Linked DNA regions of Homo sapiens. The protein of the gene in region 2 purifies or fractionates together with the protein of the main gene of each other region. This does not show direct contact. Each region holds a gene or a part of one and is shown on either strand. Other genes may lie near its edges.

What was found.
Region 1: the proteins of CDV3 (region 2) and NUP50 fractionate together in Homo sapiens (co-fractionation; one large-scale study listed by BioGRID). This does not show direct contact.
Region 3: the proteins of CDV3 (region 2) and IDH3G fractionate together in Homo sapiens (co-fractionation; one large-scale study listed by BioGRID). This does not show direct contact.

The regions. Positions count from the first base shown.
Region 1 is NC_000022.11:45,170,366-45,174,016, forward strand, and holds part of NUP50 (nuclear pore complex protein Nup50), read left to right. Parts: intron 1-622; exon of another isoform or gene 623-812; intron 813-1,234; coding exon 1,235-1,318; intron 1,319-3,651. UniProt on the Homo sapiens protein: Component of the nuclear pore complex that has a direct role in nuclear protein import. Actively displaces NLSs from importin-alpha, and facilitates disassembly of the importin-alpha:beta-cargo complex and importin recycling.
Region 2 is NC_000003.12:133,583,667-133,587,317, forward strand, and holds part of CDV3 (protein CDV3 homolog), read left to right. Parts: intron 1-335; coding exon 336-484; intron 485-2,896; coding exon 2,897-3,056; intron 3,057-3,492; coding exon of another isoform or gene 3,493-3,508; exon of another isoform or gene 3,509-3,651.
Region 3 is NC_000023.11:153,785,251-153,788,455, reverse strand, and holds the end of IDH3G (isocitrate dehydrogenase [NAD] subunit gamma, mitochondrial isoform a precursor), read left to right. Parts: intron 1-320; coding exon 321-381; intron 382-500; coding exon 501-633; intron 634-858; coding exon 859-992; intron 993-1,302; coding exon 1,303-1,405; intron 1,406-1,508; coding exon 1,509-1,655; intron 1,656-2,006; coding exon 2,007-2,101; intron 2,102-2,183; coding exon 2,184-2,244; coding exon of another isoform or gene 2,245-2,307; exon of another isoform or gene 2,308-2,482; coding exon 2,483-2,584; 3' UTR 2,585-2,688; downstream 2,689-3,205. Other genes in the region: SRPK3 (SRSF protein kinase 3), read right to left, coding at 2,936-3,120. UniProt on the Homo sapiens protein: Regulatory subunit which plays a role in the allosteric regulation of the enzyme catalyzing the decarboxylation of isocitrate (ICT) into alpha-ketoglutarate.

The DNA.
Region 1 (3,651 bases), on a different chromosome or scaffold from region 2:
CTCTACAGTCGTACCTTATCAGCAGTGTGTTACCCCCAGGCCAGATGACTAAGGAAATCTGTAACCACGACTTTCAGGTTAACAGCATAGTGCTAAGTGAAAAAAGAAAAATGTTAAAACTGCAACTGTTTCCAAGCTTATTCTTAGACGGCCATCTTCCTTCTTTTGGAATCTTTCTGGTACTAGTACTTTTTTTCTCTACAAGTGTATCTCCTCACATATGTTTAGGGAAACCAGAATCCCAAGGATGTGAGTGTTTTGACAGGGTCAAAACTGATTTGGTGCTTTTTAACTAAAATCTTTGGTTATGGGGGTTTTTGGTTTTTTGTTGTTGTTGGTTTAAGATCTTAAGCACAGTTACATTCTGGGCTATAGTAACATCTAGATTACCATGTAACTATTTGCTTAGACATTAAAATATTCAGGAATGAAAGAACTCCCATTCGAACATATGCCAATGAAATGTGTGGAAAGATTACATTTAGTTAAGTACATTTAACTTGGGGCAAGTGCAGCCAGATGGTCCCCTCTATGAGTGTAGGAGCCCGTTAAGTTTAATATGATCTGAAACAACTATAGGTGAGAATTTTTGCATGAGAAATATTTTATTCCGACCCTACAGGGTAAAAGAAGGGCTATAAACTAAAGCCGAAGATATTCAGCAGCTTTCTGACGTGGACATCAGAAGTGTGGACATGAGTGTGCTTTGAGCGCACTGTGGAAGAGCAGTGGTTGTCCAGCAAGGTCCTAGGTGCCTCCGTGGCCTTTCGTACAGTGGGCAAGTTGGGCAGGACTCATCTTAAAAATCATGTGTATGTTATAAATAACAAAATTTATTTATTTATTTTTTTGAGACAGTCTTGCTCTGTTGCCCAGGCTGGAGTGCAGTGGTGCTATCTCGGCTCACTGCAACCTCCACCTCCCGGAGGGTTCAAGTGATTCTCCTGCCTCAGCCTCCCAGGTGGCTGGGATTACAGGTGCCCACCACCATGCCCAGCTAATTTTTCATTTTTAGTAGCGACAGAGTTTCACCATGTTGGCCAGACTGGTCTCAAACTCCTGACCTTTGGCCTCCCAAAGCGCTAGTATTATAGGCGCAAGCCATTGTGCCTGGCCAAAATTTATTTTTGAGAGGCCGGACACAGTGGCTCAGTTCTAGCTTGTTGTTGTTGTTGAGGATTTTGTCATCTGTTTGGCTTTATCTTACTGCTGCTTAATTTGTATTGTATTGCAGGTGGGAACATTCTCCATGGCCAGTGAGGAAGTCTTGAAGAATAGAGCCATAAAGAAAGCAAAGCGCAGAAATGTTGGATTTGAAGTGAGTGCCCCCTTACAGCTCTTGCTATTAAATACTCATTTGATTTCTGGGTTGCACAGCAATCCCTCCGCTGGGAGCAATGATATCAACAAATGCTTTCTTAAAATACTTATTCTTTGATGTAGGTCATGGGAGATAGAAAAAAATAAGAAACGTCAGGTCTGGACCTTAAAGAGAGCTTATCCAGTTGAGGAAATAAGATAAATATAGACAAATTCAAGTTGAGTGACAATCTGGAGAAGAAAAATGAGCAAAGCAATACAGAGGTGGGCGAAGTGGCATCAGATTGGAGGAAGAAAGGAAAACGCAAGGATCTTCTGAGAGTCTTGTCTGCTCCCTGCGATTGAGGCCTTGGTAGGGGGAGCCCTTTCACTATACTAGAGGCATTTTAGGTGTGGATTTTTTGCTAGTATAGTATATTAAAATGATTCATTCCTGTGCTAAGAAGGATGGAAGATGAGTTGTAACTCCTAAATTGAAATAATGTGCTGATTATTAAGCAGTCACTCCGCATCTAAGAACTCGTCCCCAGTACATCCTCTCCCTTCAGATACATTCTAGACCCAGGAGAGTGTGGTCTTGGTGGCCTGGACATCTGGTGTTAGGCAGGAGATGCCGCTTTGAATATCCTGGGTGGCAGCTTTGAAATAAACCTACCCTACCTCACGTTTTGCAGTGTTTAAAACATCAAGAATAGACTATATTCTTGGGTGTCTCTAATCTGGAAATCCAAAATGCTCCAAGATCTGAAGCTTTTTGAGCACCAACGTGATGCTCCAAGGAAATAGTCATTGGAGGATCTCAAATGGTCAGGTTAGAGGTGCCGTGCCAGTAAGCATAATGCAGACTTCCTGGGAGCGGAAATACTTACTTTCCTGAGCGTTCTCCTTAAGGGACATGCAAGCTTATTTCCCTTTTATTTCCAAAAAAAAAGGATAGGAAAGGTGTATCATTCACACTTTGAGAAGCAATGAAAAGAAATTGTTATTACAAAAATATTCATTACATTGCCAAAGTTTTGATCATAAAATGTATTAAAGTTTGAAAACGTAAGGAAGGGAGCCAGGTAGGTGGCAGTGGTGGGGAGGCAGTCAGTAAGACGTTTACAACAGCCAGTCACTCAGAGCGTCTCATAAATGGTGGTATGTGTTAATGGGAAAACAATTCAAATTATAAAAATAAAGTATTCGCAATTTTCCTAAAATATATTACTGTATATACCAATATAGTGTAATTCGAGGCAGAGATACGTAATCCTACATGAAATCGATTCTCAGGTGGTTCTGGGTAGTCTTGAACGTCTTTAGGATGCCATGGCTAATGTCATAAGTGTGTGCTCTTTCTCTGCTCCATTGCATGCTTCAGATGCATGAGAGGAGCTTCATTTCCTGACGTTGTAAAAGCTCTTTCATGTAGAATTCAGGTTAACGGGTTGCACTGCCAAGAAAGGAAGTAGGTACAGAGGAAGCATATCTCAGATCCAAGCTAGAGATTAGGTCTTGTGTTTTGTAATTAATTAATTATATTTTGCTTAAAAATTGTATTTCTTATTTGACAAAAATTATATACTTATGGTGTACAACATGGTCTTATTTTCAGATGCATAATACATTTCTACCTGCCTGTTGTACAGTAAACCTCTTGAACTTCAGGTGTTTTTTTTTTTTTTTTGTCTGGTTTGATTTTATGAATTGCCTTGACTGGTGACTAGGTGGTAGACGTAGGTGTTGAGCTGAGTGATATTTGATGGCTCTTTCACTGGGAAGATACATGGGGGGAGGGACAGTTTAATTAAGGAGGAAATGGTTGGTCTTGGAAATGCTGTATTTGAAAGGCCTTGGTACACTCAAGTGGAGTGCCCTGGAAGACCACTAGGTATACAACAGGAATTATGGCAAGGATGGGCACAGCTCCGGCAGCTTTCGTCATGTGGGGGATTGAGGCCATGGGAATGGGCGACAGGAGGCATGCAGGTGGAGGGTCCTACGAGGAGTGAGAAACAAAGCTCACTGCAGAAGCCAAGGGAAGCCATTCTGAAGGAGGGGCAGTCACCTGTGCAACCGAAGGAAGTTCAAGAGGTAGAAATAGTACAGACCATAATCTACAACTTAAGCTGAAGGGATGAGGGAAGGAGAGGGCAGGAGCCCTTGGGCAACTAAGGGAAATTAAGTGTAGGTGGATAATAGAAATCCACAGATAATTTTAGCTGTAACTCTTAGCCTGAAGTTTTCATATATTAGGACAATTAAATGTCATGTCACCCACCAGAATGCTGAAATGCGGCTTTTCCTAAATAGTGGATTCAGTAGATCTGCTAAGCACTGGAGATGTAT
Region 2 (3,651 bases):
ATTCTCCTGCCTCAGCTTCCCCAGTAGCTGGCATTGTAGGTGTGTGCCCCCATGCCTGGCTCATTTTTGTATTTTTAGTACAGATGGGTTTCGCCATGTTGCCCAGCCTGGTCTTGAACACCTGACCTCAGGTGGTGCACCCATCTTGGCCTCCCAAAGTCCTGGGATTACAGGTGTGAGCCACTGTACCTGGCCTCACTTTTTAAATAAGACGTTCAGTCTCGAAAGAGATTGACTTCTTCAGGGTCGTACAGATAATCATGGATAAAACTAACGATTTGGACTGAAAATTTTCTTGGTGATTCCTTAATGAATTTACATCTTTGCTTTTCCAGCAGTGAAAAGGAAGAAGACGATAATGAAAAGAGACAAGATCCAGGTGATAACTGGGAAGAAGGTGGAGGTGGTGGTGGAGGTATGGAAAAATCTTCAGGTCCCTGGAATAAAACAGCTCCAGTACAAGCACCTCCTGCTCCAGTAATTGGTAATTTTACTATTTCAGTTTCAGAAAGATGTCTAATTTATATATGATTTTATATATGGTCCACTTTCAACTAAGTGCATGATTGTGGTAGGGTGAGGAGGAGAGGCTCCTTTCCATTCCTGGTAGAGTGGGATGTGTATATATCTTGTTAAAGACTTTAAAATCCTAAATAAAAGGAATCTGGAAGTTAAAAGACATGCTTTTGTCCTGTATGTTGCTGTAAAATTTATATAGATATAGACTAGTCGATTCCAGTTTCATTTATTGGAATTGAGCATTTCTTCTAATATTCTCGTTAAATATTAACTACTTGCTAATGGAGGAAAAGGTAAGGAAAAGACTTTAATTTACTAGAATCCAAGGTCAGCTTCATTTAGGATTTTTAGTGGTAACTACCCTAGGGTTGGGTTTAACTCCAAAAGTTTTCATGAGAGAGAAAATTCCTAAAGCTTTTATCATTTAAAATATTTTTGACAGCTGAGTAAAGACAGAAAGACAAGGGGCCCTTGTCTTTCACTTGTGCTTTGTCTTTTTCATTCCCTATTTAACTTTCCTGTTCTTTGAAGCATGAATTCTCAGCAGGGCCAATTTTATCATTCTCAAGGTGGTAAAAGTTGCTTCTTATGGAATGAAGGAATCTTATACCTTAACAGTCATTTGTGGCCCACGAAAAGACTAGAATGCATAAACAGATGTATAGTATATCGCAGTATTAAAATTTCATGGAGTGGGGGGCAGTTAGGAAACAGATGTCTGAAAGGTCTCCTTAGGGCAATAATGAAAGTTTAAGAGCACTACTTTAAAGAAGTGTATACTCATTATTTTATTTAGAATGTTATAAAGAATAACATATCACTCCAAATCTTGTTATGCAGAAATCACAGATAACTACTCTATGTTAAATTTTTATTTTTATATTTTTTAGAGACAGGGTTTCACTCTGGCCCAGGCTGGAGAGCAGTCATGCAATCATGGCTCATTGCAGCCCCTCAACTGCTTGGGCTCAAGTGATCCTCCCACCCCAGCCTTCCAAGTAGACTACCGGGGCATGCCACCTGTTTATTTTATTGTAGAGATGAGATCTTAACTATGTTGCCCAGGCTAGTCTTCAACTCCTGGGTTCAAGCAATCCTCCCACCTTAGCTTCCCAAAGTGCTGGGATTGCAGGTGTGAGTCACCACACCCGGTCTTATGTTTTTAAATCATCTTTAGAATCTTTTTGTTTTGTTTGTTTTGTTTGAGACAGAGTCTGGCTCCTGACTTCAAGTGATCTGCCCGCCTCGGCCTCCCAAAGTGCTGGGATTACAGGCGTGAGCCATTGTGCCTGGCTAGAATCTTTTTTTCTTTTTCTTTTTTTTTTTTAAGACAAAGTCTCACTCTCTTGCCCAGGCTGGAGTGCAGTGGCACAATCTTGGGTCACTGCAACCTCCGCCTCCCGGGTTCAAGCTATTCTCCTGCCTCAGCCTCCCAAGTAGCTGGGATTACAGGCGTGCACCACCATGCCCCGCTACATCTTTGTATTTTTAGTAGAGACGGGGTTTCACCATTTTGGCCAGGCTGGTTTTGAACTGCTGACCTCAGGTGATCTGCCTGCCTCGGGCTTCCCGAAGTGCTAGGATTACAGGCTTGAGCCACTGCACCCAGCCCTGGCTAGAATCTTAAAAAATAACCACACTGGCATTTCATTAAAAAATTCTTTACATATGGCATCTTAATCAGTCCACCAATCAGGTAAAGAAGTAATTCATATTTACTGGTAGGGAAACAGGACTAAAGTCCTATTCTGAGAGGCAGTCCCTGATGAGACCAGTCATCCAAGCCCAGCAGATTCCTTTTCTACTTCCAGTAATTTGGCTTGTGGAACTCATCATTTACGTAGATTACTAAAGTTGTACGTGGAGGAGGAGTTAGAATACTACCCTAGAAAAATACAATGTTTTCACTTTTCTTTTTTCTTTTTTGAGAGCCGGAGTCTCCTTCTGTTGCCCAGGCTGGAGTGCAGTGGCTCAATATCGGCTCACTGCAACCTCTGCCTCCTAGGTTCAAGCCATTCTCCTGCCTCAGCCCCCTGAGTAGCTGGGATTACAGGTGCCTGCCATCATGCCCAGCTAAGTTTTGTATTTTTAGTAGAGACAGGGTTTCATCATGTTGGCCCAGCTGGTCTTGAACTCCTGACCCCAGGTGATCCACCCACCTCGGCCTCCCAAAGTGCTGGGATTACAGGCGTGAGCCACCACGCCCAGCCTGTTTTCACTTTCAGACATTTTCTGAAATGAATTCCCTTCTGTGGTCTGACCCAGAGACCCTGGTATTGTTTTTTCTATAATTGTTAAATGATTGGGAATGCAAGAATAGCTTATTAAAATGCTGAGCATTTAAATAGTTTATCTAAAAATTGTTATAAAATATTAGTTACAGAAACCCCAGAACCAGCGATGACTAGTGGTGTGTATAGGCCTCCTGGGGCCAGGTTAACCACAACAAGGAAAACACCACAAGGACCACCAGAAATCTACAGTGATACACAGTTCCCATCCCTGCAGTCAACTGCCAAGCATGTAGAAAGCCGGAAGTAAGTACTATAATTAATTGCATTTTGTTTGGGACTTCTGTTCCTAGGCCAGGGAGTGGGATATAGGGGATGTGCATACCCACCCAAGGGAGAGACTACTCCTTAACTAATAAAGCCTGAGCTTCAGCTGACAGGCAGGTGAGAATCAGGGTGGGACTTCATATGTCCAGAAGGGAGGAAAGGGGGAGGGCAAAGAGCATTGGAGACACTTTGTCTTCTGTCTGCAAAAGTTTATCTTAGCCCTGGTTTATGTTGTTTTATAGCAATGACAAGTTTTAATGTAGTTAAAATTCTTTTATAATTAAGTGGCTTTTGCTCCTTATAATATGGAAACTAGAAATATAAAAGCGCTGTTTAATTGTATTCCCAGTTAATGTGACTATAGACAGAAGATGTTGGCATTTATAAATCTAATATTAAAATAATCTTATTTCAGCAGGTACTTAAAATGAATGCTACCTGGAATTAAATGACTACATATGGCACATCTACATCTTACTTTAGGGACATGAATTTTTTAAAATAAATAAAATGGGAAGAAATGTAAATGACATCAGATGGAAATGTGTTTTTTGGGGTGGCTTTTAGAATAAAT
Region 3 (3,205 bases), on a different chromosome or scaffold from region 2:
AGAGTGGTCACTTTCTGTTGCTCCAGAGCCTGGATGGAGAATGGCATGGCTGCCTGGCTGGTTGCCAGCCTTTATTCATTTATTGACTTGTTCATTCCGTCGTTCAGGGGTTATTCATGGAGCACCTGCTGCACCAGGTGCCCTTCGAGATCCCTGAGCGTGTAGCCTCGTGGGGCTTAGGCTGGAAGTTGCATTCTAGCATTCTAGTGTTCAGGAAACATTTTTGCTCCCCAAGTCTTCTGACCCCGGCAGCCTTCAGCTGCCCTGCTGAGGTGGGGCGGGGATGGGCAGTGCCACTAAGCCTGTGTTGTGTTTTGTAGGCAACATCGAAACCAACCATAACCTGCCACCGTCGCACAAATCTCGAAACAACATCCTTCGGTGAGATCCGGGTGTGCGGGCTGGGGGCTTGGTGGGGCTAAGGTGGGGTGAGCCAGTGGAGTCTGGCTCCAGTCAGCCACCTGTCAGGCCTAGCAGCCTCTTTCTCCGTCCCCTCCCAGCACCAGCCTGGACCTCTATGCCAACGTCATCCACTGTAAGAGCCTTCCAGGCGTGGTGACCCGGCACAAGGACATAGACATCCTCATTGTCCGGGAGAACACAGAGGGCGAGTACAGCAGCCTGGAGCATGAGGTGTGCATGGGGGGCCCGAGATGAGCCCCCCCAGCGTCAAGATTAAGGGGAGAGCTTAAGGAACCAGGGACAGGTGTACCCTTAGAGGGCAGGGGCTGTGCCCGAGGGAGAAGCCAGAAATAGGCAGACAGGGTTGCTTCCCACGGTGGCCCGGTCGCGCCAGCTTGTTTGGCCAGTGCTGCTCTTCAGTAGCACATGGGTCTCTTCTCCCCATGCCCTCCTCAGAGTGTGGCGGGAGTGGTGGAGAGCCTGAAGATCATCACCAAGGCCAAGTCCCTGCGCATTGCCGAGTATGCCTTCAAGCTGGCGCAGGAGAGCGGGCGCAAGAAAGTGACGGCCGTGCACAAGGCCAACATCATGTATGTCCCCTGACCTCTCTGCGAGCAGTCCAGAAGCAGCTGCAGTGGCCTGCTTGGGCCTGCTCTGAGGGATTTGTGGTCCAAAAGCCCAGCTACCCACCGAGGTGCCACCCTAGGCGAGTGCCCTGTTGCCCTCGAGGCCTTGCCAGAACCCACACTTAGGGGAGGTGGGGTGGGATTCTGTCCATTTTGCTGGTGAGGGACAGGTTAGAATTCAGACCCCAGCCTCCTGGGGCCCTCTGCACGCCCCGTCCCTCTGGCTGACTGTTGCGATGGCCAAGCTGGTGTCCTATTCCTAACCCCCCACCAGGAAACTGGGCGATGGGCTTTTCCTCCAGTGCTGCAGGGAGGTGGCAGCCCGCTACCCTCAGATCACCTTCGAGAACATGATTGTGGATAACACCACCATGCAGGTATTAGCCTGCCCAGTGCTGTCCCCCTGCCCTGAGTGCCCTGGGCTTCTCTCACCCATGCTTCCGAATCTGCTCCTCAGCCAGCCCCCTCCTTGTCCCGCAGCTGGTGTCCCGGCCCCAGCAGTTTGATGTCATGGTGATGCCCAATCTCTATGGCAACATCGTCAACAATGTCTGCGCGGGACTGGTCGGGGGCCCAGGCCTTGTGGCTGGGGCCAACTATGGCCATGTGTACGCGGTGTTTGAAACAGTGAGTGCCGGTGGCAGTGCCGCGGCTTGCCGCCTTTCTCCTGTTCACAGACTTAGTGAGGCACACTCATCCCATCCGGTTAGCCCGTTCAAAATGCATGATTTAGTAGTTTTTTGGATATCCAGGGTTGTACTGCCGTCACCACCAGGTCATTCCAGAACATTTTCACCACCCCACGAGGAAAGCCTGTCCCCATAAGCTATCTGTCCCCACACCTTCCCCCAACCCCTGGCACCCGCTGGTGGGCTTTTGTCCCTGTGGAGTGGCTTCTTCTGGACGTGTCACAGGAGCAGAGTCACTGCCCGGCATCCTTCTGCCCTCCACCCACTCTCCTTCGTCTTGCCTCCCCAGGCTACGAGGAACACCGGCAAGAGTATCGCCAATAAGAACATCGCCAACCCCACGGCCACCCTGCTGGCCAGCTGCATGATGCTGGACCACCTCAAGTGAGTGGCTCCCAGTGCCCCGCAAGCCCCTGGCCAGCCCTCCGGGCCCCAGGGACTGAAGGCTGGCTGTCCCATCCTCTAGGCTGCACTCCTATGCCACCTCCATCCGTAAGGCTGTCCTGGCATCCATGGACAATGAGAATGTGAGGTTCCCCTCGCACCCTACCCTGCTGCCCCGCCCAGTCTCCCCCTGCAGCCTCCTGTAGCCCGCCTCATGCACTGACCACAGCCCCCAGGGGAGGATGGTACTGGATCTGGCCCCATCTTCTGGCCCTTAGCTGGTGCCACTTCCCTCCTGTGGCAATCCCAGTCCTGCACGTCACAGGAGACAGCGGGGGGTGGCAGGGCCTGGTGTGTGCCGAGCCTGCCTGTGTCCTACAGATGCACACTCCGGACATCGGGGGCCAGGGCACAACATCTGAAGCCATCCAGGACGTCATCCGCCACATCCGCGTCATCAACGGCCGGGCCGTGGAGGCCTAGGCTGGCCCTAGGACCTTCTTGGTTTGCTCCTTGGATTCCCCTTCCCACTCCAGCACCCCAGCCAGCCTGGTACGCAGATCCCAGAATAAAGCACCTTCTCCCTAGACTTGGCGTGGGCCTCCCTCACTCCAGGCACCGATGTTCAGTCCACACTTTATTAAGAAAGGAATACACACACTTTCTCCGAGAGCCCTCACGGGGGTCTCAGGCAGAACACGCTCTGAGAGCCGGGCCTGGCTCCAGCGTCTCTCTGCCCTGTGGTTGTGGAGAACTGGCGCCCAGCAGGGTGGTGGGAGCTGTCCCGCTTTTCCCTTAAGGCACGGAGAGCTGGAGGTGGAGCCACAGCCGGGCCTAGGGGTTGAGCCAGGGGTGCTGGAGGCAGTCAGCGGCACTGGCCCGCTTTTCGGGGATGTACTCCATCATGGGCAGCAGAAAGGCGCTGAACTGTGTGGCCTGCTCTAGGGGCCACTCGTACTTTTCCATGAGTACCTCGTACAGGCCCCAGTGCTTGAGATTGTGGATGTGCCGCAGCTCTCCTGCGGGCAGGCCAGCGGGCGTCAGGCTCTGTCCCTGTCTCTGGACCTGCCTTCTGCTTAGGCCCTGGCTCCTGGGACCCAGTGT